Homo sapiens: one gene and its partner. The protein of the gene in region 1 interacts with the protein of each later gene in a pairwise test. Each region holds a gene or a part of one and is shown on either strand. Other genes may lie near its edges.

Region 1 (5,612 bases):
AAAATAGAAAAGCCAACTAGAAGGAGATATAACAAAATGCTAATAATGGTGAAAATACTGGCATCATTCTTCTCTGCCTCTCATACTTTTTCCTATGAAGTGTTGACTACCTTTCTAAAACACAAAATCAAAACCGACTAAAACTCCAGACTAACAGTTTCAAATTATATTCAGGAGGTTTGGCTGAAAGAAGGAGGAAAGGTGGGTGTGCCCTATTTGGATTCACACAAAAGTAGCTCCACTTTTCTCCTTTTTTTTTTTTGAGATGGAGTTTCGCTCTTGCTGTCCAGGCTGGAGTGCAATGGCACGATCTCGGCTCACCGCAACCTCCACCCCTCAGATTCAAGCAATTCTCCTGTCTCAGTCTCCTGAGTAGCTGGGAGTACAGGCATGCACCACCATGCCCAGCTAATTTTGTATGTTTAGTGGAGACGGGGTTTCTCCATGTTGGTCAAGCTGGTCTCTAACTCCCTACCTCAGGTGATCCGCCCACCTCAGCCTCCCAAAGTGCTGGGATTACAGGCATGAGCCACAGTGCTGGGCCTCACTTTTCTCCATTTTTACATTTAGGGTTTGGCCCAAGATTGTATTTGTTCTTTGGTTATCATTTGTTCAACTAATAAGTAACTGAAACATGACCTGATTCAATGAACTTCAGAGCCTGCCCCAATCGTTCTGGGAAACTTCAAATAGGGAAACTCCTTGTCCAGACTGACAGATTAGCACCTGCCAAAGGCAGAATCCTGCACCAGCCAATCCTGGGCACACTTTCCAGCCCCAATTGTATGGCATGGGCCTATGATTCTATCCCAGTTCTTAAGAATTCTCAGTTAAAATCTGGGAACAATAATTCCTACACTATAAGGCTGTTATGCAACTAAGAAAAAAAAGTAAGAGCAGTTAGCATATAGCATATCTACTCTTATGATTATTACCAATGAAAGGCTAAAACTGTCACAAACTTACTTACGTTCTTTTTCAAACAGCTCTCTAACACCAGGCAAATCTTTTGCTGCTCCAAAGTACTTGTAACCTCGGTTTCCTGGGACTTCTTTTCCTTCATGATCCAGCATTTTAGGGCCAACTTTCTTATTGGGAAGAAAAAAAGAGAAAATGGATCTGTTAGTTAGTTAGTTAGTTATTATTTATTTATTTATTTGAGGCGGAGTCTCGCTCTGTTGCCCATTTATTTATTTGAGGTGGAGTCTCGCTCTGTTGCCCAGGCTGGAGTGCAGTAGCACAATCTCACTGCAACCTCCACCTCCTGGGTTCAAGTGATTCTCCTGCCTCAGCCTCCTGAGTAGCTGGGATTACAGGTGCGTGCCACCACGCCTGGCTAATTTTTGTATTTTTAGTAGAGACGGGGTTTCACCATGTTGGTCAGGATGGTCTTGAACTCCTGACCTCATGATCCACCCACCTCGGCCTCCCAAAGTGCTGGGATTACAGGCGTGAGCCACTGCGCCTGGCAGATCTGATCTTTAAACCCACTATTTCCATGTTTGCAAATATATTTTAAGATAATAGCTGGATGCAGTGGCTCACACCTGTAATCCTAGCACTTTGGGAGGCCAAGGTAGGCGATCACTTCAGCTTAGGAGTTCAAGACCAGCCTGGGCAACATGGCAAAACCCTGTCTCTACTAAATATACAAAAATTAGCTGGGTGTGGTGAGACATGCCTGTAATCCCAGCTACTCAGGAGACTGGGGCAGGAAGAATTGCTTGAACCTGGGAGGTGGAGATTGCAGCGAGCCAAGATCGTGCCACTGTACTCCAGCCAGGGCTGGAGTAAATTAAATAAATAAATAAATAAATAAATAAATAAATAAATAAAAAACACTTATGGGCTGGGCACGGTGGCTCACACCTGTAATCCCAGCACTCTGGGACACCAAGGTGGGAAGATCACTTGAGGCCAGGAGTTCACGACCAGCATGGGCAACATGGCAAAACCCTGTCTCTACAAAAAAATGCAAAAATCAGCCAGGCATGGTGACACACACCTATCGTGCCACTGCATTCCAGCCTGGGTGACAGAGCAAGACCCTGTCTCAAAAAAAATAAATAAAACTAGGCCGGGCGCAGTGGCTCACGCCTGTAATCTCAGCACTTTGGGAGGCCGAGGTGGGCGGATCACGAGGTCAGGAGACCGAGACCATCCTGGCTAACATGGTGAAACCCCGTCTCTACTATAAATACAAAAAATTAGCTAGGCATGGTGGTGGGCGCCTGTAGTCCCAGCTACTCAGGAGGCTAAGGCAGGAGAACGGCATGAACCTGGGAGGCGGAGCTTGCAGTGAGCTGATATCACACCACTGCACTCCAGCCTGGGTGACAGAGCAAGACTCCGTCTCAAAAAAATAAAATAAAATAATTAAAAAATAAATAAATAAATAAAGATAAAAAACACGATGCTAAGTGACAAAACCTTTAAAAAGATTACAAACAACCTATATGACAATTAGTGGAAAACAAATGAAATATATCCAGAAGATACAACTATATCTATTAAAACTGATGATTTGCTGGGTGCGGTGGCTCACATCTGTAATCCCAGCACTTTGTGAGACCAAGGCGGGAAGATCACCTGAGGTCAGGAGTTCAAGACCAGCCTGGCCAACATGGTAAAATCCCATCTCTACTAAAAATACAAAAATTAGCAGGGTACGGTGGTGCACATCTGTAATTCCAGCTACTTGGGAGGCTGGAGCACAAGAATCACTTGAACCTGGGAGGCGGAGGTTAGGGTGAGCTGAGATCGCACGCCACTGCACTCCAGCCTGGACGACAGAGCGAGACTCTGTCTCGAAAAAAAAAAAAAAAAAGACGATTTGACAACTACATGTAGTATGTGACCCCAGATCAGGTCCTGTACTGCAGGGGAAATGCTACCAAGGACATTATTGGGAAAACTGATGAAATGCCACATGGATTCAATTATTGTAGCCAAGTTAAATTTCTTAAACTTGATAGCTCTACCATGGTTACATAAGAGAATATTCTTCTTAGGAAATACACATATATTAAAGGGTAAAGAAGCATGATGTATTGTAACCTACCTTTCAAGTGGTTCACAAAAAATAAATCTCAAGGTACACAAAGAAAATAAAGCAAATACAAGCAAAATGTTAAATACTGGTAAATCTGTATAAAGGGTATATAAAAGTTCTCTGTATATTTTTGCAATGCTCTTTGAGTTAAAAAACATTTTTTTAAATCATACAATTTGGCTGAGCACAGCGGCTCATGCCTGTAATCCCAGTACTTTGGGAGGCTGAGGCAGGATGACTGATTGACTCCAGGAGCTCAAGACCAGCCTGGGCAACATAATGGGACACCATTTCTACAAAAAATTTAAAAATTAGCTGGGCATGGCCAGGCACGGTAGCTCACACCTATAATCCCAGCACTTTGGGGAGCCAAGGCAGGTGGATCACCTGAGGTAGGGAGTTCGAGACCAGCCTGGCCAACATGGTGAAACCCTGTCTCTACTAAAAATACAAAAATTAGCTGGGCGTGGTGGTGGGCACCTGTAATCCCAGCTACTCTGGAGGCTGAGGCATGAGAATCGCTTGAACCCAGGAGGGGGAGGTTGCAGTGAGTCGAAATCACACTCCTGCACTCCAGCCTGGGTGACAGAGCGAGACTCCGTCGCAAAAACAAAAATTAGCTGAGCATGGTGGCACACACCTGTCATCTCAGCTGCTCAGGAGGCTGAGGTAAAAGGATTACTTGCACCTGGAGTCAAGGCTGCAGTGAGCCATGATCGTGCCACTGCACTCCAGCCTGGGGTGACAGAGTAAAATCTTGTCACAAAAACTAAGAGGCTGGGTGCAGTGGCTCACATCTGTAATTCCAGCAGTTTGGGAGACCAAGGCGGACAGATCACCAGAGGTCAGGAGTTCGAGACCAGCCTGGCCAACATGGTCAAACCCCAACTCTACTAAAATATAAAAATTAGCCAGGTGTGGTGGCGCACACCTATAATCTCAGCTGCTCTGGAGGCTGGGGCACAAGAATTGCTTGAACCCAGGAGGCAGAGGTTGCAGTGAGCCAAGATCGCACCACTGCACTCCAGCCTGGGTGATGAAGCGAGACTCTGTCTCAAAAAAAAAAAAAAAACTAAACTAGAATAAAATAAAACAATATACATATCTATCATATGATTATTTATTGACACGAAACTGTATTCCTTGTACAGTTTAGAGAATAAAGCACATAGAATATTAATGAATTTCTATAATGTATATACTAATATGTATTTTTTATATCTTATAATTTTTATATTTATATTTTTTCTCTGCACAAAAATATGTACTGTTTATATAATGAAAGCTACCATTTTGAAAAGAAAAACAAAATCCAGAACCAAAATTGTACATACAGTGAGTATGGTTTCAATTATGACATTCATACAAAAACAACGGAAGGAGAAAAAAGATAAAGAGCATATTCAAGTGGCTGCACTTATGTAATGGGATTGTGACTGAGTGTTGTTCTGCTTCTTTGTACTTTTCTGAACTTAGTGGTAATATATTACTTTTATATGTAGAAAATAAAAATAAAATTATTAAGCATTAAAAATCTCTGGAAAAAATATATAAAAATATTAATAGTGTTGAATTTGGGTGGTGGAACTTAACATTTCACATACGAATTTTTTCATACCTGAGACCACTTTTCTAGGTGGATTAATGAGCTGCTTTTAAGCTGCCTCACAGGAAAAATAAAATCTCCACCACACAACTGCTGAAGAGATCAGGCAAGGGCTCACTCTGGCAGGACATATACTAAAATCGGAATGATACAGAGAAGATTGGCATATAAAAATAAAAAACAGCAAAAATAAAATAAATGAAAAGAAAAAAAGAAGTTAGGCAAGACACCCAAGAGAAGTCTCCTAGTGCAGTGCCCAGACACAAAAGGTGCTTCAGAAATGGGAGTGCCTTTCCTCTTCTGCAGTGGGAAGGCTGAATACTCCATTTGTATGTACTAGGGTAAGAATTATGGTTATGTGTTAGACTTTCACAAGGTGAAAAGATCAACACGTAGAAAAACTGCATGTGTTTCTTATATAACACATTATAGTCCATTGATTACATACTGTTTCCAGTGATCTGAGGTAGGTCTCATCACAAAAGTGTGAACGAATTAGGCTCTGGGGCAGGAGTTTTCAAAACCAAGACCCATTAGTGCATCATGAAATCAGTTAAGCAGGTCACAAACATCAAATTTTTAAAAACCAAAATAGAACAGAATAAAAAATATACCATACTTATTGTTTTTTTCAGCACCTTTGTGTGCTGGCTTGTGATTGTGTGTGTGTGTGTCTGTGTGTGTTTTACAATGAGCCATGTTCTTAAAAGTTTGAAAGCTATGGTTCTAGAGTATTGCATTTATAGAAGTCCAAAAAAAGGACAGAATGTAGTGTCTCTATGGCTCTCAGATAACAAAGCCAACAAATAGCTGTCTCCAGTTCCTAAGGCACTTAAAGAATGTGAGGAACCATGCTCATTTTATCTTTTTTTTGAGACAGCATCTTGCTCTGGCACCCAGGCTGAGGTGCAATGGCATGATGACAGCTCACTGCAGCCTCCACCTCCCAGGCTC
Region 2 (3,885 bases), on another chromosome or scaffold:
AGCTTAGCTAAGGATTACACGGCTAATAAGTGGCTGATATGGTTTGGCTGTGTCCCCACCCAAATCTCATCTTGAATTTCCACGTGTGTGGGAGGGACCCAGTGGACGGTAACTGAATCATGGAGGCAGCTCTTTCCCACGCTGTTGTCACGATAGTGAGTAAGTCTCATGAGATCTGATGGTTTTAAAAAGGGCATTTCCCTGCACAAGCTCTCTTGTCTACTGCCATGTGAGATATGCCTTTCACCTTCCTCCATAATTGTGAGGCCTCCCCAACCAAGTGGAATTCTAAGTCCAATAAACCTCTTTCTTTAGTAAATTGCCCAGTCTCAGGTACGTCTTTATCAGGAGTGTGAAAACAGACTAATACAGTGGCCAAAAGTTATCCCAGGCCATCGTGCTCCAGGGCACACCCCTAAGCACCATGCTACATGCTGAATGACTATCTGGTCATGAAAACTAAAGGCCCCAACCTGTTTGATCTCCCACTTCTCTGGGTCAGAGATTCGGGTGAGGCGCTTGCGTTCCAGTGAGTCGTCCTCTACTTCAGGAGCACTGACAAGGGACAAGTGAGTGGGTCTATCAGGATTCCGCATTGAGGTCTCCTCATTGGTCTCCCCGACAAGATTTCGCCGTCTATTTGGGTTTAGATCTTCTCCAGTCTCTTGATCCACATCCTAAGGCACAAAAACAAGGGAGCTGTCTCACTTGCTGTCCTCTTCCATTCCCTTGGCCATCACATGTAAGAACAGGCTGACCATCTCACCTACCTTCATGCTCAGGCTGGTCTTGGTCCCAGTGAAGGACAGCACTTTGACTTTGACCCTCTGGCCTTTGCTCACGACATCAGCTACATTGGCCACACGACCCTCCCGCCGGAGCTCAGAGATGTGCACCAGGCCTTCCCACCGCTTCCTGAGGGAGAGCCAGACACATCTGGAACATGCCAAAAAATATTTTTCCCCCAACCAATTTCTACCCTTACTGGAACTAACAAAAGAAAATGGTCTTAAACTCAAGAGAAAAGTACCATGAAGGTGGTCAAACAATAAAATAGTATTAACACTCTCCTCATGGGGAGACATGGGGTGGGGAAGCAAATTCTATCTGTCCCAACAAGCAAAGGACAGATCTCCTGAAGACAGAGAAAGGAATAAATGGCTCTGTAACATTTCAAAAGAGTCAATTTCTAAGAACCATGTATGGCTGATTTGACTAAAGTGTCATTAATCAAAGTAACTTTTTAGAATGTGAACATCCTCAGTGATAAAAGAAATTCTGCCCATCACTGGTGTGAACAAAAGAGCACCAGTCATTACCTTAGTCCTTCCAGCTGCACAAAGCAACCAAACTGCATGATGCTGGTAACTTTGCCATTATAAATGTCACCAATGGTGGGCTCTTCTGGAGGAGGGCGGTCCACATGCTTATCCCGCCATCTATCCAGATTCCGCTCTCCATATTTGTCCCGGTCCTTCCGGTCTTTGGGGGGACTCTGACTCCTGCTCCTGGACCGATATCTAGACTTCACTTTATTCCTCTCCCGGGTCCTGGAACGTGATCGAGAGCGGGATCGGTGTCTCCGCTTGTGGTCTCTATCTCGGTTTCGTTCCCTATCTCTGTCTCGATCTCGGTTTCGATCTCGGCTTCGACTCCGCTTCTTCTTCTTTGTCCTGTCCCTAACAAATCAATAAGCACCTGTTTAAAAAAGAAACCAATCCGATTTCATCTTCGCATCCCCAAGCACCCAGTACAGTGCCATGCACATGGTAGGTACCCACTAGGTTTTGAACTGAATTAGAGTTTCAATAACTACGACATCCCTATAAGCCAATAAAGAATTGAGCCACAAACATATTCAGCCTCTTTCAACCCTGACTTCTATATTCTGAACAACCTAGCATTTGCTACATACACTTAGCAGGAAGCAATGAAAACAGATCCAACAATATGATATATGACCAGTCCAGATTCTGTAAACTTGCCCAAAATTTTGCTTGGCTGGTCCATAATATTCAACTGTCACAGTACCCTAAACTTCCAAAGGACAGGACACTAAGGACAAACCGGTGTTCAGCATCTCTTTGCTTCTCCTGGCCTGCTGCGCTGGGCATTAAAGCTTCCAGTTCTTTCAGGACATCCACAGCAACTTTCACATCATCTTCATCCAACATGGTCTGCAGAGGTAGAGGCCGGCAAAGTTAGGAAAAAAAACTACTCAAGAATCTGTATGTACCTCAGGTACATCTATAAATCACTAATCACTATGTGAGGGAAATAGAAGAGGGGCAGAGATTTCAAACTTGATTCAGGATAGATGCAGAAGAAATGGAAAAAAGGCTCTTGAGAATTACTGCTACATTTGACAAATCCCCTCTGTCCTTAATAGAATTCTATGAAAGGCAGTTAGATATTAATCATCCCTGCCATGAAAGAATGCAAGTGATGATTATATTAATAGAAAACAGGTGTTAAAAATTTTAAAAAGCAACTCTCCCTCTGCACTCTTCCTCCCTACCCCCACTCCAGCTTTATTTTTTTAAATAGCCCTTATTGCTATCTGCTATGTTACATACCTATTTGTTTGTTTATTGCCTATCTCCTCCCCACCAGAATGTTTACATGTTTATTTCCTGCTCCCTACCCCAAAATTAGGATATAATCTCCAAAGGCTGAAACTCTTGTCTGTTCTGTTCACTGCTGTTATCCAGGTACTTAGAACAGTGTTTGGCATACAGTAAGTACTCAATAAATATTTATTAAAATGAAATTTAAAAATCAAAATGCTTTAAAAATTAGACCTTTAACAAGTAACAGAGCAAAAAAAAAAAATCTAATTTCACACCTTAGGCATCTGTTCCAGAACCTTATTTCATATTCCTAATCACTACTTCCCCAAATTCCCAATCTCATTTCCCTTGAATATCATTCTCAGAACCCCTTAACAAATTCAATACATAGTACATGCTCAGGGAGTGATCAAACACTTTCATTCTTAAAAATAAGTTACAACAAAGGCAAACTTAAAATTAATAAAATTACTATGAGACAAAGAAAAGGGGTTGAGAATATATATTTATAGTAGACACTCTTAAAATGGTATCAGTACCCGAACAGAAGGGTTGTCCGGTTGGCAAAGGACTGGGAAGAGTTCCTTCAGCTTTTCTTTTTCTGTTTTAGGTTTAACAACTGGATCTTGTTTCATTAAAGAGCATGAAGGGGTTAAAAAAAGAGATATATATTTAATATTATTAATGATTAACAAAATAACTTCAACAATAGATTTGTATCAAACTGAAACAGAACATGGCATTTTGCTATATATTAATCATACCTGTTACTATAAATGTAATTTAATTTTCTAAATACATTGATCACAAACTATCTCGAAATGTAGCAGAAAGAGGAGTGTAGCAATACTCATTGGGTTATGTCTTATCTTTTTTATTTTGTCTTAAGTCGTTTGAAATTTTTTTTCCCCTTGAAACGGGGAAAAAAACCTCTGTCACTCAGGCTAAAGTACATTGGTGCAACTATGGCTCACTGCAGCTTCACCCTTTTGGACTCAAGCAACACTCCTTCCTTAGCCTCCCAAGTAGCTGGAACTACGGAGGCACGCCATCATGCCTGGCTAATTTTTTTATTTTTTTGTAGAGATGAGGTCTCTCTATGTTGCCCAGGCTGGTCTAAAACTCCTGGGCTCAAGTGATACTCCCACCTTGGCCTCCCAAAGTGCTGGGATTCCAGCAGTGAGCCGCTAGGCCCAGCCCATTTGAAAAATCTTACTGGAACATTTACTTGCTCAGCAACTGCTGAGAGGAAAACAAATGCAATTTACAGGATGTTCAAAACCTACACCATTCTAGAAGCTAAGCTCAGCTGGAA

The links. The genes of interacting proteins can lie anywhere in the genome.
Region 2: the proteins of ISY1 (region 1) and DHX8 interact in binary tests that used the Homo sapiens proteins (3 or more experiments, as listed by UniProt).

Annotation. Positions count from the first base shown.
Region 1 is NC_000003.12:129,139,398-129,145,009, forward strand, and holds part of ISY1 (pre-mRNA-splicing factor ISY1 homolog), read right to left. Parts: intron 1,089-5,612; coding exon 971-1,088; intron 1-970. Other genes in the region: ISY1-RAB43 protein, read right to left, coding at 971-1,088. UniProt on the Homo sapiens protein: Component of the spliceosome C complex required for the selective processing of microRNAs during embryonic stem cell differentiation. Required for the biogenesis of all miRNAs from the pri-miR-17-92 primary transcript except miR-92a.
Region 2 is NC_000017.11:43,490,475-43,494,359, reverse strand, and holds part of DHX8 (ATP-dependent RNA helicase DHX8), read right to left. Parts: intron 3,196-3,885; coding exon 3,110-3,195; intron 2,178-3,109; coding exon 2,068-2,177; exon of another isoform or gene 1,986-2,067; intron 1,699-1,985; exon of another isoform or gene 1,680-1,698; coding exon 1,320-1,679; intron 916-1,319; coding exon 771-915; intron 678-770; coding exon 474-677; intron 1-473.